3 separate regions of the Homo sapiens genome follow, and regions 1 and 2 are each linked to region 3. Evidence: fine-mapped expression QTL. A gene starts in region 3. Each other region holds a variant in brackets. All regions are shown on one strand. Distances are between the middles of the regions.

Evidence for each region. PIP is the estimated chance that this variant, and not a neighbour inherited with it, causes the effect.
Region 1: its variant is the best candidate, but not a certain one, in a credible set for the expression of TMEM120A in whole blood (TOPMed, PIP 0.71).
Region 2: its variant is the best candidate, but not a certain one, in a credible set for the expression of TMEM120A in subcutaneous fat (FUSION, PIP 0.87).

Annotation. Positions count from the first base shown.
Region 1 is chr7:75,937,718-75,946,235 of GRCh38, reverse strand. All of the region lies in intron 1 of POR (cytochrome p450 oxidoreductase), which reads right to left. It overlaps SNORA14A (small nucleolar RNA, H/ACA box 14A), which reads right to left and starts at 2,453; the gene lies at 2,320-2,453. The variant A/G (reference allele first, on the strand shown) is at 4,587.
Region 2 is chr7:76,165,562-76,173,296 of GRCh38, reverse strand. No RefSeq gene overlaps it. Among named protein-coding and RNA genes, the nearest start is that of SRRM3, 32 kb to the left of the region's middle. The variant AG/G (reference allele first, on the strand shown) is at 4,855.
Region 3 is chr7:75,990,304-75,998,560 of GRCh38, reverse strand. TMEM120A (transmembrane protein 120A) reads left to right here and starts at 3,966. Exons shown (of 12, transcript NM_031925.3): 1 at 3,966-4,071; 2 at 6,004-6,122; 3 at 6,301-6,417. The coding sequence starts at 3,991. It overlaps STYXL1 (serine/threonine/tyrosine interacting like 1), which reads left to right. Exons shown (of 9, transcript NM_001317785.2): 9 at 1,962-2,219. The coding sequence ends at 2,093. RefSeq lists silencers at 3,725-4,174, 4,185-4,244, 7,236-7,530 and an enhancer at 6,426-6,485.

The sequences.
Region 1 (8,518 bases), 52 kb after region 3:
TAGAGCAGACCTGACTTTTATTATAAATTAGGTCTCTACATGTTTTCATTATTATAAAATACAACATACAGAGAAGGGTAAAAACTATGCATGTATAGCTTGACCACGATTCCCTGTCAATTTCGGTAGCTGGCTGGTTCCCACCAAGGTAGCAATCAAGGGCAACAGCTCCAGTCCCTCCCACACACCACTGAGCAAGATGGACAAATAAATCAGGGAGCACACAGGCTGGGGGGCACTGGCAGGAGCCTCACCAGCTTCTGAAAGGGAGAATGACGCAAGAACACAAGGGCTCTCTGAGGCCAACCATTTGCAACACTGGAACAGGTTATCTTCCAGGAAGTATTTGCAGTTTTGCATTTACTGTTTGCAACTTCTGGTCCGTAAAAAAGATTGAGCAACCAACTCAGCACTGATATTGGGGTGAGTCAGACACCCCAATCAAAGCAGTAACAAGAAAGGAAAGAATAAAACTTGTAATTTAGTCAACCCTTTAGCTGTCACTGTCATGTCAGGGCCACCTAGACAAGGCTCTGGCACCAGGGGCTGCACCTTCTGGCTGCAGGGGGAGCGGGGTCATTCAGGTTCACAAGCCCCTCTGCCAAGGTTTAGTGGCTTCAAGATGAGGGAAAACCCTCATGGAACCATACCCTACTGTTGCCTGACAGCGCAACCCACAGGGACTGAGAGGTACTCGGGGAACACTACACTCTCCAAGGTGACCTGTTAAAAAGCAGTGTCCAAGAGTGACTCAGACAGATCGCTCCACAGCCACAATAGCCAGAGTACCCAGGAAGTTTATTATCTGTACTGAGATGTTGGTGCAGATTTCTTTGTGTTTACCTTCTGTGGGGTTCACTCAGTTTCTTGAATCTGTAGATTTATGTCTTTTGCAAAATATAGCAACTTTTCTTTTCTTTTCTTTTTTGTTTTAGGAGACAAGGTCTTGCTCTATCACCCAGGCTGGAGGCATAGTGGTGCAATCACTGTTCACTGAAGCCTCAACTTTCTGGGCTTGAGGGATCCTCCGGGCTCAAGGGATCCTCCTGCCTCAGGCCTCCTGAGTAGGTGGGACTACAGGTGTGCCTCACCACACCTGGCTAATTTTTGTATTTTTAGTAGAGACAGGGTTTTGCCACATTGCCCAGTCTGGTAATGAACTCCTGAGATTCTGCCCACCTCTGTCTCCCAAAGTGCTGGGATTATAGGAGTGAGCCACCGTGCCCGGCCGCCATTATTTTTTAAATAACTTTTCAGCCTCACTCTCTTTCTCTTCTTCTCCTGGGACTTGGGTGACATGAAAGTCAGATCTTTTGTTATTAGTCCCACAAAATCCTGAGGCTCTGTTCATTTGTTTTGTTTTGGTTTTCAGTCTATTTTCTGTTGTTTAGGTTAGGTGATTTCTACTGCTCTAACTTCAAGTTCATGGATTCTCTCTTCTGTCTCCTCCATTTTGCTGTGGAGTCATCCATTCAGTTTCCTATTTTGACTATTGTATATTTCGGTTCTAAGACATCTGTTTCATTCTTCTCTATATCTTAATTCCAACATCTGTGTCATCCTGATGCTGGTGTCTGTTGACTCTCTTTTCTCATTCAAGTTGAGAGTTTTGTGGTTCTTGGTATAGTGATTGATTTTTATTGTATTCTGGGCATTCTGGGTACTTTAAGATCCTGAATCTTATTTAAGCCTATTTTATTTTTGAGACAGAGTCTGTCTCTATTGCCCAGGCTGGAGTGCAATTGTGTGATCTCAGTGCACTGCAATCTCTGCCTCCCAGGTTCAACTGATTCTCATGCCTCAGCCACCAGAGTAGCTGTGATTACAGGCGTGTGCCACCACGCCTGGCTAATTTATTTTTTTGTATTTTTAGTAAAGACAGGGTCTCACCATGTTGCTGGGGCTGGTCTCAAACTCCTGGCCTCAAGTGATCCACCCACCTTGGCCTCCCAAAGTGTTGGGATTACAGGTGTAAGCCATTGCACCCAGCCTTTTTTGATTTTATTAAATATTGTCTGTCACCTGCTTATAGGGAAGGAAGGTATCAGTTCATTGCTGTCAGGCGAGATTCAGTCTCCCTCCTGGGCCTCTGCTGACAAACCCTAGCTTGGAGAGGGAAGACAGCACATGATCTCCACTGACACATGGGGTGGGGCTCCCTGGTTCCGCCAGGTGGTGATGAAGTCCTGACTCACACTGGGCCTCCTCTAATGTCACTCCCAAGGAGAGCACGTTTCCTTGCTTCCTTGAAGAGTCGAGGTTTCCTTGGCTATTTTTTTTTTAAGTTGATAATTCTCCCTTTTGCAAATTTCCCTTAAAAGATGTTGCAGGTATGAAATAAGACTGAGCCACAGGAGACGCGCAGCCCTTTGGACTTTCCTGCAATTTCTATAGCATTCGCTCATATCTTGGAAGCATTTACAGGGAAGCCACCAAGAGGGTTTAAGAATGCAATTCCTTGGCTCTTGATGAATCTAAAGACGTTACCAATACTTTTCAGTTGTTGTTTACTTGGGGAGTCAATACCAAGTTTGAAGAATTAGCATGAAACAACTACAAATAAGAGCATTTTCAAAGAAGTTGAGAAAAGTTTAGTACAATCTGAAATGGAATCCACTAAGATGTGTTATAATGAATGTGGGGGGCAGAAAAAGGCTTAGTTGGAGCCTATGGTTGTTCACTATATTATTCACCAGCAGATATTATGCAAAAAATTTGAATCTATTATATGTGATCGAACAAGGGAATGTCAACAGTATCTGCTCTCATGGACTTAACCTAAGTTGGTCTTAAGGATTTTTGTCAAAAATAGAAGCTGAATATCCTAACTGGCCTACCATACAGCAGTTCAGCAGCTTAGCAGTGGTAAAGTCTGGTGTGACTATTTTGAGCTCAGAGTGAATATTAAATCTTTTCTGAACAAGAATAACTGAAAAGTACTGCCCTCTTAGTCTAAAAATAAAAATAAAAAATAAAAAAAGAGAGGGCCGGGCACGGTGGCTCATGCCTGTAAACCCAGCATTTTGGGAAGCCGAGGCAGGCGGATCACAAGGTGAGGAGATCGAGACCATCCTGGCTAACACGGTGAAACCCCATCTCTACTAAAAATACAAAAAATTAGCTGGGTGTGGTGCCACGTGCCTGTAGTCCCAGCTACTCAGGAGGCTGAGGCAGAAGAAACACTTGAACCTGGGAGGTGGAGGTTGTAATGAGCCGAGATCATGCCACTGCACTCCAGCCTGGGTGACAGAGCAAGACTCCATCTCAATAAAAAAAAAAAAAGAAAAAGAAAAAAGAAAGAACTGCCCTCAACCACTATTACCAAATACTAAATCGCTTTGGAAATTAGCTTTTGCTGCAGACTTGATGTTTCTTAATGAGGCCAATCTAAAATTATAAGGCAAAACAGCAGTTATATGCAAAACTTATATTGCGGTAAAGTCATTTCAATGAAATTAACATTGTATGAATCACAAGTAATGTCAACCTGCGCCATACAATTCCTAGACTGTCAAGGTTAGAACAAGTGAAAAACCTTTGCACATTTTTTTGAGCTCAAACCTTGAGCTCAAAAAAAACAAAAACTTTGAGCTGCTAGTTCTAGCCCTAGCAGCGTTTTTCAGATCTTGATCTAAGTATGAAGGAAATTCCCATATTTTAAAATCCATTTAACTGTACAATTGAGCAGCTCTCATCTAACCTTCAATTGGAAGTGGCTGATCTGCAATGCAATAATGCAAAAAGGCAAATATCAAGAGGGGAATCTAAAAAAAAAAATCTATAAATGCTGTCTTCCAATGATTAAAATGCCCCATCAAAATTTATGCTCCCTGACCAATATAACTTGGCAGTACCTATTTGTGTGAAAAGATATTTTCAAAGATGTCACCTATACAATCTCATTACAGATGAGCACTGACACGGGGATATTTGCAACAGATTTTGATGTTTGGGAACACTAATTCAGAACCCCAATGAAACAAAATTGTTTTCTGTTTTTTGTTTTTTTGAGACTGGGTCTTGCTTTGTCACCCAGACTGCAGTGCAGTGGCACAATCGCAGCTCACTCCAGCCTCAGCCTTCTGGGCTCAAGTGATCCTCCCACCTCAGTCTCCACAGTAGTTGGGACTACAGGTGTATACTACCCACCATGCCCAGCTAACTTTTTAAATATTTTTTTGTAGAGACAGGGGTTAGCCATGTTGCCCAGGCTGGTCTCAAACTCCTGGACTCAAGCGATCCTCCCACCTCAGCCTCCAAGAGTGCTGGGATTAGAGGCGTGAGTCATGGCACCTGGCCCAAAATTGTTATCCCTACAAAAATCATTCCATTCTTCTTATTAACAAACCTGTATTAAAAACTTGCACTCAACTGTTATTAGTTATTACTCGAATTTCTTTTAAAAATATATATTTCAAATTATAGAGACAGGGTCTGGCTAAGTTGCCCAGGCTGGTCTCAAACACCTGGGCTCAAGCAATTCTCCCGCCTTGGCCTCCCAAAGTGCTGGGATTACAGGTGTGAACCACCGCAACCAGCCTTATTTGAATTTCATCAACAAAAAACATGGAAACTTGTTGCCTCTC[A/G]TTATATATAACATCCTAGATTTTACTTCTTGGCATGCAAAGCCTAAAAAATATTTATTACCTGGCCTCTGACAAGAAATAAGTTATTAGCGCCTACTCTAGATAACTGAAGTGCACCTAGTTACCGGAGCTCTGTACTGACTGGGCAGTACAGATGCCGGAGGCTCTGGTTGTGGGAGTCTGAACGGGTTACTTGACCTCCCAGGACTCAGGTTTCTTCTCCACAAAGCAATATGGAGCTGGTCACCAAGGATCATCCTCAGCTCTAAAATTCTACACAGCTAGAGAAATACTTCCGGAATACGTGAACCATGTCCATGCTGTCTCGAGTCCACGCACGGTTCCTTTTGTAGACTACTCGGCCATCGTGTCATTGTACAACATACTTAGGGCCTAAAGAGGCAGGAGAGGTTGCTTGCACACAGAGGGAACCCAGGCTGTGGGATCTCAGGTTCCTGCATCTTTTTGGTCTGTTTGCTTGTTTTGAGAGACACAGTCTCACTCTGTTACCCAGGGTGGAAAGCAGTAGCATAGTTCACTGCACCCTCATACTCCTGGCCTCAAGCCATCCTCCCACCTTAGCCTCCCAAGTAGCTGAGACTATAGGTATGCACCACCTCACCGAGCTAATTTTTTAAAAACTTTTATTTCTGTAGAGATGGGGTCTCGCTTGGTTGCCCAGGCTGGTCTCAAACTCCTGGGCTCAAGCGATCCTCGCACCTTGGCCTCCCAAAGTCCTGGGATTCCAGGTGTAAGCCAGCACACCCGGCCCCTGCATCTTTGTTGTTGATAGTGTTTGTCTTTTCTTGAGGCAGGATGACCCTCACCATTATGAGAGTGCCTACGTTTTTTCTTTTTTCTTTTTTGAGATGGAGTCTTGCTCTGTCGTCCAGGCTGGAGTACAGTGGCGCAATCTCAGCTGACAGCAAGCTCCGCCTCCTGGGTTCACGCCATTCTCCTTCCTTAGCCTCCTGAGTAGCTGGGACTACAGGCGCCTGCCACCACACCCGGCTAATTTTTTGTGTTTTTAGTAGAGATGGGGTTTCACCATATTAGCCAGGATGGTCTCGATCTCCTGACTTCGTGATCCACCTGCCTCAGCCTCCCAAAGTGCTGGTATTACAGGTGTGAGCCACTGCACCCGGCCACGAGAGTGCCTACGTTTTTTTTCAAAAGTCTCTCACCCATTTCTAATTGGCTGCTTTGAATCTGCGTAAATTGGGAAATCAGCTGCTTGTTAGCGTGATATCTAAGATAAGAGTAAGCCAGGCACAGCGGCTCACGCCTGGAATCCCAGCACTTTGGGAGGCTGAGGCAGGTGGATCACCTGAGGTCAGGAGTTTGAGACCAGCCTGGCCAACATGGCGAAACCCCATCTCTACTAAAAATACAAAAATAACTAGCCAGGCGTGGTGGTGCGTGCCTGTAATCCCAGGTACTTGGGAGGCTGAGGCAGGAGAATCACTTGAACCCAGGAGGCGGAGGCTGCAGTGAGCCAAGATGACACCATTGCACTCCAGCCTGGGCAACACAGTGAGACTCCGTCTCAATAAATAAATAAATATAAAATAAAATAAGAGTAAAGAGGTGGGGAGCGTTGGCTCAGGTCTGTAGTCCCAGCTATTTGGGAGGTAAGGCAGGAGATCACTTGAGCCCTGCAGGTTGAGGCTGCAGTGAGTATCCCTGCACTCCAGCCTGGGCAACAAAGCAAGACCCCATCACTATATAATAAGAGTAAAGAGGGCCAGGTGCGGTGGCTCACGCCTGTAATCCCAACACTTTGGGAGGCTGAGGCGGGTGGATCACTTGAGGTCAGGAGCTCGAGACCAGCCTGGCCAACATTGGGAAACCCAGTCTCTACTAAAAATACAAAAATTAGCCAAGTATGGTGGCGCACCCCTGTAATTCCAGCTACTCTGGAGGCTGCTGAGGCAGGAGAATCACTTGCACCTAGGAGGTGAAGGTTGCAGTGAGCCAAGATCATGCCACTGCACTCCAGCCTGGGCGATAGAATGAGACTCTGTCTCGAAAAAAAAAGAAAAAGAGTAAAAGAGTAAAGAGGTTCTTTGAAGACTAGCATCTTCTGTATTTAAAAAAAAAAAAAAAAAAAAAAGCTGTTGAGTAGGGCCTGTGGGGCCTTCTTATTCACAGACTTTGTGAAATCCATTCCAGAAACTCTGAGTTGCTTCCGGATTCTCAGATGTGCTAGAGATGTACTCCGAAAGCCTTGCAGGCCACGGCTCTGTGTGGCTAAAAGTACTGAGCACTCCCACCAAAGCAGGCCTGGAACCCGCACGAGGGCTCCGCTGGCCTGTGAGGCCCAAAGCACTAAGGATGCCAGGGAGTGCGAGGCAGGCAGGCTCCTAATCCCACAGAGCTTACAGTCTGGAAAGCCTCTAGACAATGTTCAGGTACAAAAACGTCATGTCGAAGGACATGCTTCTGTCACTCTTACGTCCATGCGTGCAGCAAACAGCTGAGGAGCACCTGCTGCACTCCAGGAACTGTGTGGGTTCAGGCAGGAGCAGACATGCCAACCTTGCCCCAAGGTGTCCTCCTGCTATGAGAAAGGGCAGACCTATCCCAACAGTCACGGCTGCATGGGGAGGCCAGGTGCAGGGGAAATAGAGCTGGAAGGAAAAAGCAGGCATGACAGTCTGAAACAGTCAAGGAAGGGGCTCCCAGAGGCCAACATCTGGGCTGGATTGTGAAGAATGATCAGGGTCCACCAGTCAGATTAGGGGGATGAGCGAAGCTACCGATAGAGGAAGCGTGTACCAGAGCCTAGAACACGAGAAACTCGGGGTCTGGGGTAACTCAAGTGTGGTGCAATGGGATGTGTTTTTATGTGGGGATGCATAGATGGCGAATAAGAGATAAGCATTCATTCATTCACGGAACAGGCTGGAGTCACCAAGGCTGCAGTGCAGTGGTGTGATCACAGCTCACTGCAGCCTCTAACTCCTGGGCTCAAGCAATCCTCCTCCCTCAGCCTCCTGCATAGCTGAGACCATAGGCATGCACCACCATACCAGCTGATTTTTTAAATTTTTTTGTAGAGATGGGGTCTCACTAAGTTGCCCAGGCTGGTCTCAAACTCCTAGGCTCAAGCAATCCTCCCATCTTGGCCTCCCAAAGTGCTGGGATAACAGGTAAGAGCCACCACACTCGGCCGAGATAAACTTTTAAGAGACACCCAGATGAGTGCGTAAGGGCCTAGGGGCCTGTATGCCAGTCTAAGGTGTTTGGCCCTGGGGAAGCTGGTGAGGACAGGGCAAGGGGGTGCTGTGATCAGAATGCTGCTACAGGAAGGTACTACTGTACAACGATGCCTGCACCCCTAATATCAATGCAGTCACGGGGCTTTCACCAAGGTATCCTGGAGAACATTCTCCACTGAAGATGGCCATGGCCAAACGCTCCCAGCTGATGGCCTTTTCCCCACACAACAGGACTTAATTTAGAAACACATGACCAGCATGTGCCCGATGCAATGACGTGAAAGGAGGAAGGCAGCTGCTGAGTCAGATCTGTGCAAGCGTGACTGGGGGGACAGGAGGGACAGCAGGCGAACAGTGGGCATGACTCAGCACAAATCGAACTGACCAGGCCCACAGGGGCTGATGCTGCAGCTGCAGCTCCCCGTGCCTGCTTCTAGCAGCATCTCTGCGGCCTTGGCTCCTTGGCTTGAATGCCAAGGGGACGAGACCACAGCTCCCCTAAGCTCCAGGGCATTGCATGGATATAATCCAGCGTCAACATTAAAAGGTGGCACAAGGTGATTTACAGGCACAAAACTCTCCACAGGAGTTCACGCTGGTTCATCCTCCTGACCATCCCCACTTTTGCCTCAATTGTTTTTTTTTTTAGATGGAGTTTTGCTCTTGTCGCCCAGGCTGGAGTGCAATGGCACGATCTCGGCTCACTGCAAC
Region 2 (7,735 bases), 170 kb before region 3:
CCTCCAAGAGAACTGCGGGGAGAGGCCTGATATGATTTGGGGATTCTGGGAGAAATGGCCCACCCCTGCTCCTAAGAGGTCAGAACGTGCTTGGGGGGTGTTGGTGGATGGTAGCCAAGCTGATTGCTGGGGGCAGGGTCTGGTGGGCACTCAGGACAGGCATTGAACCTGGTGTTGGTATGTATGTATGCATGTAGTATGTATGTATATGTATATATGCATCCATGTATTTTTTTTTGAGACAGAATCTTGCTCTGTTGCCCAGGCTGGAGTGCAATGGCACAAATATTGGCTCACTGCAACCTCCGCTTCCGGGATTCAAGTGATTCTCCTGCCTCAACCTCCTGAGTGGCTGGAACTATAGGCATGTGCCACCACACCTGGCTAATTATTTTTAGTATTTTTAGTAGAGACGGGGTTTACAATGTTGGCCAGGTTGGTTTCAAACTCCTGACCTCAGGTGATCTGCCTGCCTCAGCCTCCCAAAGTCCTGGGATTACAGGCATTAGCCATCGTGCCTGGCCTCATGTTTGTATTTTTGAGACAAGGTGTTACTCTGTTGTCCAGGCTGGAGTGCAGTGGTGCAATCACAGCTCACTGCAGCCTTGACCTCCCAGGCTCAAGCAATCCTCCCACCTCAGCCTCCCAAGTAGCTGGGACCACAGGTACCAGCCACCACGCCCGGCTAACTTTTTATTTTTTGTAGAGACAAGGGTCTCACTATGTTGCCCAGGCTGGTGTCAAACTCCAGGGGTCAAGAGGTCCACCCACCTTGGCCTCCCAAAGTGCTGGGATTACAGGAGTAAGCCACCAAGCCCGGCCTGGCATGGGCGTGTATTTATTTTGAGACAGAGTCTTGCCCTGTCACCCAGGCTGGAGTGCAGTGGCACAATCTCAGCTCACTACAACCTCTGCCTTTCAGGTTCAAGCGATTCTCCTGCCTCAGCCTCCTGAGTAGCTGGGATTACAGGTGCCTGCCACCAGGCCCAGCTAATTTCTTGTATTTTTAGTAGAGATGGGGTTTCACCATGTTGGTCAGGCTGGTCTCAAACTCCTGAACTCAGGTGATCCACCCACCTCAGACTCCCAAAGAGCTGGGATTACAGGTATAAGCCACCGCTCCTGGCCTTTATTTTCTTTTTTTTTTATTTTTGAGACAAAGTCTCATTCTGTCATCCAGGCTGGAGTGCGGTGGCACAATCTCGGCTCACTGCAAGCTCTGCCTCCCGGGTTCACGCCATTCTCCTGCCTCAGCCTCCCGAGTAGCTGGAACTACAGACGCCTGCCACCACGCCAGGCTACTTTTTGTATTTTTAGTAGAGGCGGAGTTTCACCACGTTGGCCAAGACGGTCTGGATCTCTTGACCTCGTGATCCGCCCGCCTCGGCCTCCCAAAGTGCTGGGATTACAGGTGTGAGCCACCGCGCCTAGCCTATTTTCTTTTAATGAGAACCTCAGCCAGGCACAGTGGCTCAGCCCTGTTATCCCAGTCCTTTGGGAGGCCGAGGCAGGAGGATCACTTGAGGCCAGGAGTTCAAGACCATCCTGGACAACATAGTGAGACCTCTGTCTCCGTTAAAAAAAAAAAAAAAGAGGAGACCTCATTGAGGGTATATAGGAAATGAAACTAAGATATAATATATTTTGGCTTTGTAAATCAATGTTTTCACATATTGGTTTTGTTAGATTTATTTTTCCATCAGTGAAAACATTTTTTGAACACAAATTCCTTTTCCAGTTAAATAATTTGTAAGTAAAGTTTATTCAAATGTATGTTAAAACATTTAATATTTGTCTTCTGAAGTTTGTCTTTATGTACATCAAGATATTGGTTGTCTTGTCTTAAATGTATCATTGGATATCACATATTCTATTCGTTGTTTAATAAGGGTAATGCCCATCTAGGAATGAATAGTTTTTTAAAATCAAAAACAAGACAAATGACACACTCCACGTGGCAGGTAAAAGGTTAATGAGCTTCACATATAAAGAACTTCTTCAAATAAATAAAGAAAAAACATTTAGGCCGGGAGCGTTGGCTCACGCCTGTAATTCCAGCACTTCAGGAGGCCAAGGTGGGTGATCACTTGAGGTCAAGAGTCTGAGACTAGCCTAGTAACATGGTGAAACCCTGTCTCTACTAAAAATACAAAAAAAATTAGCTCGGCCGGGCTTGGTGGCTCACACCTGTAATCCCAGCACTTTGGGAGGCCGAGGCGGGTGGATCATGAGGTCAGGAGATCAAGACCATCCTGGCTAACACGGTGAAACCCTGTCTTTACTAAAAAATACAAAAAATTAGCCAGGTGTAGTGGCGGGCACCTGTAGTCCCAGTTACTCGGGAGGCTGAGGCAGGAGAATGGCATGAACCCAGGAGGCAGAGCTTGCAGTGAGCCGAGATTGCACCTCTGCACTCCAGCCTGGGTGACAGAGTGACTCCGTCTCAAAAAAAAAAAAAAATTAGCTCGACATGGTGGCTCATGCTTGTAATCCCAGCTACTAGGGAGGCTGAGGCAGCAGAATCGCTTCAACTCGTGAGGCAGAGGTTGCAGTGAGCAGAGATCGCACCAGTGCACTCTAGCCTGGGTGACAAGAATGAAGCTCCGTCTCAAAAAAAAAAAAAGGAAAGAATATTTGACATGAAAATGAAAGGTATTTTTTATAATATAGTCAATACATTAGGTGAAAGAGCAGATTACACGACAGTATATATAGTGTGTTTATATTTTGAGAAAATATATATTTTGAATATTGGAATTATATACACCCAACTAGTAATGTTATCCATTGATTCATGGAATTACAAGTGACTTTTTTTTTTGCTTGTCCCTATTTTCCAATTTTTCTACAGTGACCGTACTTGCAATAATTAAACATAGTATGGTCATTTAAAATATGTGCCCAAATTCTCTGATACCCTCTTCAACGGCAGAGCCCAGTCCCTATCCCCTTGAATGTGAGCTGGGTTACGTGATTCCCTTCTGACAGATAGGAAAAAGCAAAAGTGATGGCTTGCAACTTTGCAAACTACATCATAAAAGGTACTGTGGCTTCCTCCTTGCTCACTCTTTGATTACTCACTTGGGAAAGCCAGCTGTCACACCATGACACCTAAGCAGCCTGTAGAGAGGCTCATGTAACAGGAACTGAGGCCTCCTGTCAGCAGTCACATGAGGGAGCCATCTTGGAAACAGGCTTTAGGTGACTGCAGTCTCAGTGGACAGCTTGAGTGCAATGTCATGAGACACCCTGAGCCCAAATGACCCAGCTATGCCACTCCTGAATTCCTGACCCACAGAAATGGAGATCCTAAGTAAGTATTTTATTTATTTATTTATTTATTTATTTATTTATTTATTTTTGAGACAGAGTCTCACTCTGTCACCCAGGCTGGAGTGCGGTGTTGTGATCTTGGCTCACTGTAACCTCTTCCTCCCGGGCTCAAGTGATTCTCCCCCATCAGCCTCCTGAGTAGCTGGGACCACAGGTGTGCACCACCACGCCTGGCTAATGTTTGCATTTTCTGTAGGGATGGAGTCTTACTATGTTGCCCAGGCTGATCTTAAACTGCTGGACTCAAGCCATCTGCCCACCTCGGCCTCCCAAAGTATTGGGATTACAGGCATGAGCCACTGTGCCTGGCCCTAAGTATTTATTTTAAGCCACTAGGTCTGGAGTAATTTGTTACATAGCAGCAGATAAATAATACACATATTTTCTATAGCGATCACATTTATAATTTAAATTGAATTAAAAAGGCTGGGAGCAGTGACTCATGCCTGTAATCCTAGCACTTCAGGAGGCTGAGGCTGGAAGATCGCTTGAAGCCCAGGAGTTTGAGACCAGCCTGGGCAATATGGCAAAACACCTTCTCTACAAAATACAAAAAAAAAAATTAGCTGGGTGTGGGCTGGACGCGGTGGCTCATGCCTGTAATCCCAGGACTTTGGGAGGCTGAGGCGGGCAGATCATGAGGTCAGGAGATCAAGACCATCCTGGCTAATACGGTGAAACCCTGTCTCTATTAAAAATACAAAAAATTTAGCCAGACGTGGTGACAGGCACCTGTAGTCCCAGCTACTCAGGAGGTGGAGGCAGGAGAATGGCATGAACCCAGGAGGCAGAGCTTGCAGTGAGCCGAGGTCACGCCACTGCACTCTAGCCTGGGCAACAGAGTGAGACTCTATCTCAAAAAACAAACAAACAAACAAAAATTAGCCAGGTGTGCTGGCGTGTACCTGTAGTCCCAGATACTTGGAGACTATGGTGGGAGAATCACCTGAGTCAAGGAAGTCGAGGCTGCAGTGAGCTGTGACTGTGCCACTGTACTCCAGCCTGCATGACAGAGTGAGATTTTGCCTCAAAAAAAAATTTTTTTTTGGCTGGGCGCAGTGGCTCATGCATTTTGGGAGGCCGAGGCAGGTGGATCATGAGGTCAAGAGATCAAGACCATCCTGGCCAACATGGCGAAACCCTGTCTCTACTAAAAATACAAAAATTAGCTGGGCATGGTGGCATGTGCCTGTAGTCCCAGCTACTCGAGAGGCTGAGGCAGGAGAATCACTTGAACCCAGGAGGCGGAGGTGGCAGTGAGCCGAGATCATGCCACTGCACTCCAGCTCAAAAAATATATATATTTTTTTAATTAACAAGTTCTAGTATCTAAAATGAGCAAAATCGTCACGTGTGGTGGATCACACCTGTAATCCCAGCAATTTGGGATGCCAAGGCATGTGGATCATCTGAGGTCAGGAGTTCAAGACCAGGCTGCAGTGAGCCAAGATTGCACCACTGCACTCCAGCTGGGGAGACAGAGTGAGACTCCATCTCAAAAAAAAAAAAAAAAAAAAAAAA[AG/G]TAAATATGCATTTGAAAAGAACAGCATCAGCCAGGTACAGTGGCTCACGCCTGTAATCCCAGCACTTTGGGAGGCCGAGGGTAGAGGATAGCTGAGCCCAGGAGTTTGAGACCACCCTGGGCAACATGGTGAAACCCTGTCTCTACAAAAAATACAAAAATTAGCCAACTGTGGTAGTAAACACCTGCAGTCTCAGCTACTTGGGAGGCTGGGGAAAGGATTGCTTGAGTCTGGGAGGTCGAGGCTGCAGTGAGCCATGATTGCGCCACCTCACTCCAGCCTGGGCAACAGAGCAAGACCCTCTCTCAAAAAAGAAAAAAAAACATGCAAAAAGAAAACAAAACAGAACAGCGTCATTTCCTTATCATTAGTTTGAAGGAAGGGAATCACTGGCAAAAGTTTCCATTTTCTTTTTTTTGAGATGGAGTCTCACTCTGTCGCCCAGGCTGGAGTGCAATGGCGCGATCTCGGCTCACTGCAAGCTCTGCCTCCCGGGTTCACACCATTCTCCTGCCTCAGCCTCCTGAGTAGCTGGGACTACAGGCGCCCACCACGACGCCCAGCTAATTTTTTGTATTTTTGTAGAGACCGAATTTCACCATGTTGCTCAAGCTAGTCTGGAACGCCTGAGCTCAAGGGATCTGCCCACCTCGGCCTCCCAAAGTGCTAGGATTAAGGGCGTGAGTTACCAGGCCGGCCCAATTACTTTCTTCAGTCTGAGCATGAGCACTGGAAGAAAAGCTCTCACTCACATGTAATTTTTTTTAGAGACATGGTCTCCCTCTGTCACCCAGGCTGAAGTGCAGTGGCGTAATCTCAGCTCACGGTAACCTCAACCTCCCGGGCTCCAAATATATATATATATATATATATATATATATATATATTTTTTTTTTTTTAGTTGGAGTCTCGGTCTGTCGCCCAGGCTGGAGTGCAGTGGCGCGATCTCGGCTCACTGCAGCCGCCGCCCCCCGGGTTCAAGCAATTCTCTGCCTCTGCCTCAGCCTCCCGAATAGCTGGTATTACATGTGCCCGCCACCACGCCCGGCTAATTTTTTATTTTTAGTATAGACGGCATTCACCATGCTGGCCAGGATGGTCTTGAATTTCCGACCTCGTGATCCACCTGTCTCGGCCTCCCAAAGTGCTGGGATTAAAGGCGTGAGCCACCGTGCCCGGCCCGATCGCTTATATTTTTAAAGAGATGTTTTCTTGGTTTCCTAGCCCCTCGTACCCCCTACAAAGTTCCAAAGGCTTTGATGTTGTTGCAAAGGCCATGAGAGGTCAAGCCGAGGGGTGCAGCTCCCTAATGCGGTGTAGCCTCAGACGGGGCCGATCCTGCCCAGAATGAGCGGCGCCGGGCGGTGGGGGACGCTGCCGGTGTCCCCGGGACCTGGCTGGGGGAGGAGTTGGGGGGGCGCACCTACACAGGCTCAGGTGACGCGAGTGTGCGGCAAGGGCTGTAGCCGGAGCTAGCGGGCTTGTGGTGGCCACTGAGGAGCTTCTGCCCGACAGTGCCCTCCGGGCCACAGCCGCTTGGTGCGCAGCGCCTACTCGCTCAGCGTCAGGCCCTTGCTGCGCCCTACGCCGCAGGCTGGGAAGTCGCGCAGGTAGCAGTAGTACAGGCAGTGGTAAAGCTCGTCCTTGTAGCTTATTGGTGTCGGCGGCCGAGTCGGAGCCTGCGGACACTAACCCGCCGCCTACTGACACTGACCGGCAGTCTGTGGCCACGCGTCTGCGCATGCGCTCTCCTGGAATACCCAGCCGCCGCGCCTCGAGTTCCGATTGGTTCTACAGAAGGGGCGCGCCTCCGCTGACGTCACAGGCGCGGGCCTTCCGGCGACGTAATAGCGCCGGCCTTCGGCGATGTCACAGTGACGCTACAGTGCCTGGAGCTGGGCTGTTTTCTCCTCGGTTTGGAGCCTGGTGACCGTGACTTCCCCGCCATGTTCTGTGTGTTGCTGGCTGGAGAAGGGTAGTTGACAAACTCCGACCCAGCACAGTGTTTCTGTGGGTCAAAACTAGAAAACTATGTCCGGGCTCCGCCGAGGCGGAAGGATCCCTTCAGGCCAGGAGTTAAAGAGCGGCCTGGGCAACATGGCGCGACTCCATCTCTGTAGTCCCTCCTCAGCTTCCCAGATACTTGAACCCCAAGGTTCAAGGCTGCAATGAGCTATGATCCCATCACAGCACTCTATCCTGCGAGACTGAAGTAAACCTTGTCTAAAAAAATAAACTATCCAAGTGTGCAACAGGGAGGGACCGCTTAAAGAAAACATGGTAATTGTATGTTCAAATACTTTTAACAAGTGCAAAATGTATAGGCTTAAATAAATAGGGCTGGCCGGGCGCGTTGGCTCACGCCTGTAATTCCAACATTTTGTGTGCCCGAGGCATTCCGATCACTTGAAGTCAGGAACTCGAGACCAGCCTGGCCAATATGGTGAAACCCCATCTCTACTAAAAATATAAAAATTAGGCCAGGCACCTTGCATCGTTTCAGGAGGCTCGCACCTCCCTAAGGGCCCGTTAATTGAACCCCTCGGACCTGAGGGTGAGAAACCTTGGCTTAGTTCTTCCCAGGGTGATCAGCCCAGGGGTAAGAGAGGAGAGGCCAGAAAGCAGGACCCATGAGAAGGGCCCCCTCCTGGAGTTTGAGGCCCATTCCTTCCTGCCCCTGCGTCTCCTCGGTCCAGGACTCCTCCCTGCTCTGCCCCACTCCTGGGGCCATGGCCACGGGGGGCTGCTTTTGGGTACAGGCCCCAGCGGCAACCCTGGGCCCAAAGTGGGCAGGCTCACCTGGAGGGGATCAGAGTAAAATGGCAAGAAGCGAGGGGAAAAGCCGCCCTGGAAGCGCGCCTCTCTGCCCCCTGACGTCA
Region 3 (8,257 bases):
GTTGGGAGGCAGAGGTGGGCAGATCACCTGAGGTCAGGAGTTTGAGACCAGCCTGGCTGACATGGCAAAACCTCGTCTCTGCTAAAAATACAAAAATGAGCCAGGCGTGGTGGCACATGCCTGTAATCCCAGTTACTTGGGAGGCTGAGGCACAAGGATCACTTGAACCCAGGAGGCGGAGGTTGCAGTAAGCTGAGATTGCACAATTGCACTCCAGCCTGGGCAACAGAGTGAGACTCAGTCTCAAAAAAAAAAAAAATTGCTTGACCATATAGGTAAGGGTTTATTTCTAGGCTAGGCTGGCTATTCTATTCCACTAGTCTCTTTGTCTTCATGTCCATACCATACTGTTTTGATTACTGTAGTTTTGTTAGACTAAGGTTTGAAATCAGGAAGTGTGAGACCTACAACTTTGTTCTTCTTAAATATTTTTTATGGGGTCCTTTGAGATTCCATATGAATTTTAGGATGGATTTTTCTATTTCTACAAAAAATGTTGTTGGGATTTTGATAGGGATTGCCTTAAACCTGTGGATTACTTTGAGTTGTATTGGCATCTTAATAATATTAAGCTTTCCAACCCATGAACACAGGATGTCTTTTCATTTGTTTGTACCTTTAATTTCTTTCAGCACTGTTTTGGAGTTTTCAGTGTACAAGTCTTTTGCCTCCTTGGTTAAATATTTTATTCTTTTTGATGCTACTGTAAATGGAATTGTTTTCTTAATTTCCTTTTTGAATTGTTTAGTATATAGACATGCAACTAATTTTTGCATGTTGGTTTTGTATCCTGCATCCTTGCTGAATTTATTAGCTGTGTGTGTGTGTTGTGTGTGTGTGTAATCTTTAGGGTTTTCTACATATGAAATCATGTCATCTTCAAACCAGAGGTAAGGTTACTTCTTCCTATCCATTGTAGATGCCTTTTATTTCTTTTTCTTGCCTCATTGTTCTGGCTAGGACTTCTAGGACTATGTTGAACAGAAGTGATGAAAGCAAGCACCCTTGCCTTGTTCCCGATCTTAGAGGAAAAACTTTATCTTTCGCCATTGAGTGTGATGTTAGCTGTGGGCTTCTCATATATGGCCTTTATCAGGTTGACATCACTTCCTTCCTTTTTTGTTTTTGAGACAGAGTCTTGCTCTGTCACCCAGGCTGGAGTGCAGTGGTGCAATCTCGGCTCACTGCAACCTCCGCCTCCCAGGTTCAAGCAATTTTCCTGCCTCAGCCACCCAAGTAGCTGGGATTACAGGCATGTGCCACCATACTTGGCTAATTTTTGCATTTTTTTAGTAGAGACAGGGTTTCGCCACATTGGCCAGGCTAGTCTCGAACTCCTGACCTCAGGTGATCCACCCGTCTCGGCCCCCCAAAGTGCCAGGATTACAGGCATGAGCCACTGTGCCTGGCCATTTCCTTCTGTTCCTAGTTTTAGGCACCACTCTTGCCTTTCCCTTTTTCGTTTGTCCTCAATCCAGATGGAGACCAGGTGCTCACCCTCCTTCATGCAGCAACACTTCCTGTACTTTAAGGTGGATGCCTGAAGGAGGGCAGCTTGAATTTTCTTCTTCAGAGAATTTGCCCACAGTTCTCTTCCTCTTTCCATTAATTTGTCCAGTCACAATGCAAACCTTTGTTGAGACTGCACTAGGCTTGGCATAGTGTTTGCCATCCACAGGTGGTTTCATGTATATTGTCTTAATCTTCCCAGAAGCTGTTTGAAATAGGAATTATTTCTGTCACCAGATTTAGAAGCAGAGGGGCTTGCCCAAGGCAGAGTCAGCTCCCATGACTCCCAGCACTGATGCATTCATGCCAGGCTGCCCTGTTTCTGCATCCAGCCCTTAAGCCGTGTTGCTGGCACTGTGCAAGTGCCTCCTGTCTCTGAAAGCTGCCTCTGATCCAAGTGGAAAGGGCCCAGGACCAATCGTGAAGTTCACTTTCTCTCTTTGTATTCATAGAGGTCCTGGGCCTATGTCAAGAAGTGCAAAAACAACATGTGTCCAAATCGGGGATTGGTGAGCCAGCTGCTGGAATGGGAGAAGACTATCCTTGGAGATTCCATCACAAACATCATGGATCCGCTCTACTGATCTTCTCCGAGGCCCACCGAAGGGTACTGAAGAGCCTCACCTGGGGGCATTTTGTGGGTGGAGGGCCAGAGTGTGTATACCCAGGCTTGTCTGGAAGGAGAAGGCCTTTGCTGCCTGAAAGTCTCATGTTAGCCTCCTGTACTGATTCTTCCCAAGTGCCTGTTCACGCCACCTAGCTGATGCGCCCTGCTCAGGTTCACCAAGAACCCGCATCCCTGAGGTGTCGCGGGCCATCCCAACTGCACCCCTGAGGCTGCCTCTGGAAGAGCATCTGGCTGCTAGAGCAGCTGCCCTGCATCCCCCTGGTGACTTAGACCCTTTGGAGGCTGCCTGGGGGTACCCAGAGGTTGCCTGTGTTGGTTCACAGAGGATGTCACAATAGCCACCAATAGGCAGTCCCCTAGTCCCAGAGATACCAAGCCCAGCCTTGTCTAGCCCCCAGGCTCCTAGAATGGGATCACACCCTTGCCTCATCCCCAGCGCTTCCTGCCATCCACCCCTTGAAACAGATTTTCTTTCCCTGCTCCCCACTCATTTCTGCCTGGCTGTGTTCACCAAGGAGAGATTCTCACCCCCTCCCCCATCTCCCTATCCACGTTTCTAGAAATTCCTAAGGTCTTAAAAGTTTTCCTTTTTTTTACCCCCTTTCCTTTTTTTTGGAGGCACGGTCTTGCTGTGTCTCTCAGGCTGGAGTGCAGTGGCGCAATCATGGCTCACTGCAGCCTCAACTTCCCTGGGCTCAAGCGATCCTCCCACCTCAACCTCCTGAGTGAGTAGCTGGGAATGCAGGCATGCACCATCACACCTGGCTAATTTATTTTTATTTTTGTAGAAACAGGGTCTTGCTCTGTTGCCTAGGCTGGTCTCGAACTTCTGGGCTCAAGTGATCCTCCAGCCTCGGCCTCCCCAAAATGCTGGGATTACAGGTGTGGGCCACGGCACCCAGTTGGAAGTTGTTTTCCAAATGCACTTCTCCAAAGCTGGCAGCACCCACAGAACAAACTGGGCATCAGGAGACGGCACAGACTAGGGGACTGGTAGGGGATTAGGATGTCCATCCATGCAGGACCTTCCCCAAGTCCATTCGGCAACCATTCCCTGCCACCGCGTGGGTGGGGCTGGGAACAGAGAGATGAATGCCGTCCCACCACTTAGCGCGCTCTGTGGAGGGATGGGGGTGGGAGGGGGTGGGGGATTCCCCTCAACAGAAGGGCAGGCCTTCAAGGAGGAGTGGGGTTTTGCCAGAGGGGGAACGGCTTTACACACAGCCCTGGCTTTCCTCAGGGTGTGAGTTGGGACAGAGCCCGGGATGGCTGCAGAGCTCCGATTAGGGACCTCCTGGTAGGCAGGACACAGCCGCTGGAAAGTTTTAAGCATGAACATGATGGGGAATCAGCCTTGTGTTTTGGGAAGGGCAGTCCGGTGGCCGCGAGAAGGGACAGTGGAGGTGAGGCAGGGAGAAAGGAGGCCGCTGTAAAAATCCAAGCGAGAGAAGCAGCTCTAACTCCCTTCCCCAAAGAGGCTCAGCTTCCCAAGGACGAAAATGTTGCAAGCAGGTGTCACCTCCCTGCACCTTGGTTTGCTCTCAGCATGACGGGCCAGAGCCCTGCTGGCTGCACCACGCGGCTGGCACAGTCAGTGCAGTCCAGGCCCGGGGGCTGCAGCCGTCCCAGTCCCGGTCCAGGCCGCGAGTCCCGGGGCTAGCAACCGCCCTTGCATACGGCCCCGCCCATACCCCGCCCCTGTCCCGGATTGGCTGGGGTGGGGGGCGTGGCCTTTCCCCATTGGTGCCCGTGGCGGCGCGAGCCCGGAAGCGGACGGGGGCGGTGGCGGAGGAGCCTCGGGTGGGCCGGGGTTGCTGCGCCGTCCTCCACTACTGGCTACTGGCGCTGCAGCCATGCAGCCCCCGCCCCCGGGCCCGCTGGGCGACTGCCTGCGGGACTGGGAGGATCTACAGCAGGACTTCCAGAACATCCAGGTTAGCGCCGCTGCGGACGCCGGGTCGCCCCCGAGCCGCGTCTCGCTGGCTCAGGGTCAAGGGTCGGGCAGCCCTGGGTCAGGCAGTGGGGAGCTAAGGGTCAGGGGTCGGGGCCCTGGCGTCACTGCCAAGGGGGGCGAGGCCCCTGGTCCTGGTGTCCACTGCCACCACCTCCAGTGTCCGGGAACCCCGGCGGGACCCCATCGCGCTGGGCGACCTCGGCTTCCAATGAGGGCCTTGGAAAGGGGCCCAGACCCCGACCCCGTCCCTTCCCAGAAGAGAGCGGCCGCCTGAGTCACACACGGGCGGGCCCAGCCTTGGGTCAGCCACTCAGCAAACGCGCAGCGGGCAGCGCCCGAGAGGCAGCCCAGGTCGGGGGAGCAGCGTTTAGGGGGGTGTCCTCGGCCTGGATGGGGGACGCCCCAGGCAGAGGGATACCGCGCGCCGCCGAGGCCTTTGGAAGGAAAGAGGGGACTTGACAGGCCCATGTGGCTGCATCAAGGAGAACCAGGGGAGGGGTGGGACGGGTGGGAGGGGTGGGCGGGGCTAGGCCCTGCAGGGACGCTCTGGCCTGGCAGAGATCAGAGTCCCTCCGAGGCCAGTGGAAAGCTACGGGAGGAATTGTCTGGACTGAGCTCCCCAGGGCCACCGTGGCTGTTCTGTCCAGAGGCCAGGGAGGAGGAGGCTGTTGGCCTCATCCAGGCAGGGAAGAGGGCGGTGGCTGTGGGTGGGCAGAAGTGGCACGTGCTGGGGTCCGAGGGGGCGTGGTGACCCCTCCTGGGCATGAGAAACAAGATCCAGACAGAGTAGAGCCCTGGCCAGCTGATGGCTTGGTTAGCCCTTGGCCTCTCCTGGACTGGTTCCAACTGCTTCCTGTGGGCATTGAAACCCAGCTGCCCCTGGCCCTGCCAAGGCCCCTGCCATTGGTGCTTCTCCCCAGAGACTGAGCAGACCCAGTCTCCCCGCCTGGCCGCCGCTGTCCTGGCCACAGCCCCTGCTTGGCTCTCCTCACACTGCCCCTTGCCCCATCTCTAGGCTGCGCCTTCTTGAGACTCACCTACCAGGGCAAAGTGCTTGGGGAATCCTTGGGCCAAAGGTGCTAGGGGAAGGGAGTGGGGCTGGCCTTAGAGCAGGAGGCTCTAGGGTTGAAACCTGATGACCTTTAACCTGGGAAGAAGATGTCAGGGATTCCTGAGAACCTGAGCTCCTCCTGTACTGGAAGGCTAGATAGGCAGGAGGAGCTGAGAGGATAGAGGGGTGGCTCTGGGCTGCCTGCTTGGTCCAGGAGGTGGCCCTGGGGGCCTAAGCTCCAGACTCAAGGTAGGAGAAAGAGTCTGTCCTTGTAGGGTGGGGACAACTAGCAGATGGGCTGAGACTAAGAAAACCTTGGCTGGGTGCGGTGGCTTATGCCTGTAATCCCAGCACTTTGGGAGGCCGAGGCAGGCAGATCACCTGAGGTCAGGAGTTCAAGACCAGCCTGGCCAACATGGTGAAACCCTGTCTCTACAAAAATACAAAAATTAGCCAGGCATGATGGCAGGTGCCTGTAATCCTAGCTACTTGGGAGGCTGAGGCAGAAGAATGGTTTGAACCCGGGAGGCGGAGGTTGGAGTGAGCTGAGATCCTGCCATTGCACTTCAGCCTGGGCAACAGAACAAGACTGTCTCAAAACAAAAACAAAAACAAAAACACCTAGTCTGTTTTTGGAGGAGGGGTGCTGTGGGGGTCTCTGGGCTCACAGGAGGACACCCAGGTCCTTGCCTGCCTTGGGGAGACAGCCACCTCATCCCTGGGCAGGCACAGTTCTACCTCCTTTCCCGCTGAGCGAAACCCTCCCAGCAGCCCTGGGGGAGCCTGAGCGCCACGTCCTGCCTGCAGGCTCTGGCTCAGTAGCTCCCCAACTGGCCTGAGCCTCTCCCCTCCGGCCCCCAGGAGACCCATCGGCTCTACCGCCTGAAGCTGGAGGAGCTGACCAAACTTCAGAACAATTGCACCAGCTCCATCACGCGGCAGAAGAAGCGGCTCCAGGAGCTGGCCCTCGCCCTGAAGAAGTTAGGATCCCCTACCCCACCCGCCATGGGCAGAGTGTGGGGTGGGAGGGCTGGCGCTGTGAGACCCTGGGCACCGCCCCTCCCCTCTCTGGGCCCTGTTTGCCCTTCTGCCCCTGTGGGAGTCAGGGAGGACACTTGGGAGTCCTCTTGCCCTGACTGTTTCTGGCCTTACCCGCAGATGCAAACCCTCCCTCCCAGCAGAGGCCGAGGGGGCCGCACAGGAGCTGGAGAACCAGATGAAAGAGCGCCAAGGCCTCTTCTTTGACATGGAGGCCTATTTGCCTAAGAAGAATGGGTGAGGGCCCCCACCGCCACCCCCAGCTCAGTTCACAGCCACTCCTGAAGCCGGGTGCTGCCTCCTCTTGGTCATTATAGTCAGCAAATGTTCCCTGGGCCCAGTACAGGCTGAGCAATGAGGCACAGTGCTGACTTCAGGGGAGACACCTGGCTGAGAGTGACATTTCACTGTGATAGGTGCTTTGTAGCATGGGGAATGAGGTGGCACAGTGAGGGACACCTGACCCAGTCCAGGAGGTCGCAGAAGGCTTCCTGGATTAGGGGATGGGTGGGCTGAGTCTTACAGAATAAAGAGTGGGCCGGGCGTGGTGGCTCTCACCTGTAATCTCAGCACTCTGGGAGATGGAGGTGGGAGGATCACTTGAACTCAGGAGTTCAAGACCAGCCTGGGTGACATACTGAGACCCTATGTCTCTATTTATTTAAAAAGAACAAATAGGCTGGGCGCGGTGGCTCATGCCTGTAATCCCAGCACTTTTTTGGGAAGCCAAGGCAGATCGCTTGAGGTCGGGAGTTCAAGACCCGCCTGGGCAACATGGTAAAACCCATCTCTACTAAAAATACAAAAATTAGCCGGGCATTGTGGCATGCACCTGTAATCCCAGCTACTTGGGAGGCTGAGACAGGAGAATCACTTGAACCCGGGAGGCGGAGGCTGCAGTGAGCTGAGATCGCACCACCGGACTGTAGCCTGGGCAACAGAGTGAGACTCTGTCTTAAAAAATAAATAAGTAAATAAATAAAAAAAATGAGGCAGACACATGGGCTGAGGGCGAGAGGTAGCAGCAGGTGGACGGGCCATGAGAACTTGTAGTGGCCAGAGGTCGGGGCGGGAGGTGAGAGGCAGCCAAGAGATCAGAGGCTTTGCTGGGCTGCAGCTCTTGCCTTGAGCCCAGTAGGCGGGCGGGGGCGGTGGAATGTGCACCTGGAAAGGCCAGCAGCTGTCACCCAGGAGGACGGATGGGGCAGTGCAAAACCCCCTGCTGAGCAAAAAATCCCAGCAGAGGCTGCAGGCAGGGAGATAGCTGGGAGAGGGCGTGGCCCAGAAGGCAGGGAGAAGAAAGGAGTGTCCGTAGCCTGGGGTCAGTCCTGTGATAAGGAAGGGGATGCGCTTCCTGGAAGTTGGGTCATCTTGGCAGAACCATTTGGTGGAAGGGGATGGATGTCGATCTTGGGGATGACAGAAGAGCCAAGGAAGGGAGACAGCCAAGTCTAGGAGACTTTTTTTTTTTTTTTTTTTTTTTGAGACAGAGTCTCACTCTGTCGCTAGGCTGGAGTGCAGTCACTTGATCTCGGCTCACTGCAACCTCTGTCTCCGTGGTTCAAGCGATTCTCCTGCCTCAGCCTCCGGAGTAGCTGGGATTACAGGTGCCCGCCACCACACCCGGCTAATTTTTGTATTTTTGTATTTTGTATTTTTAGTAGAGATGGGGTTTCACCATGTTGGTCAGGCTGGTCTCGATCTTCTGACCTCATGATCCACCCGCCTCGGCCTCCCAAAGTGCTGGGATTACAGGTGTGAGCCACCGCACCCAGCCCTCTGGGAGACTTTTTAGAGCTTGGCTGTGAGTGGAGGGAGAGAATTAGCAACTAGGAACTGGAAATTAGCACTGGGTTGAGGGGCAGCTACTGCCTGTTTGTGGGGTTACTTTGCCTCTGGGAAGACTCGAGCACATCCACCTGCTGAGAAGAGGGGCCGAGAGGGGAAAGACCCAGGAGAAGGGCAGGAGGTGATGGAGGGAAGCCTGGGGAGAGCGAGAAGGGCTAGTGGGGGATGGAGGGTGCAGAGATGAGAGTGAGGAGTGCTCCCGGCACAGTGCTCCTGGCATAGTGCTCCC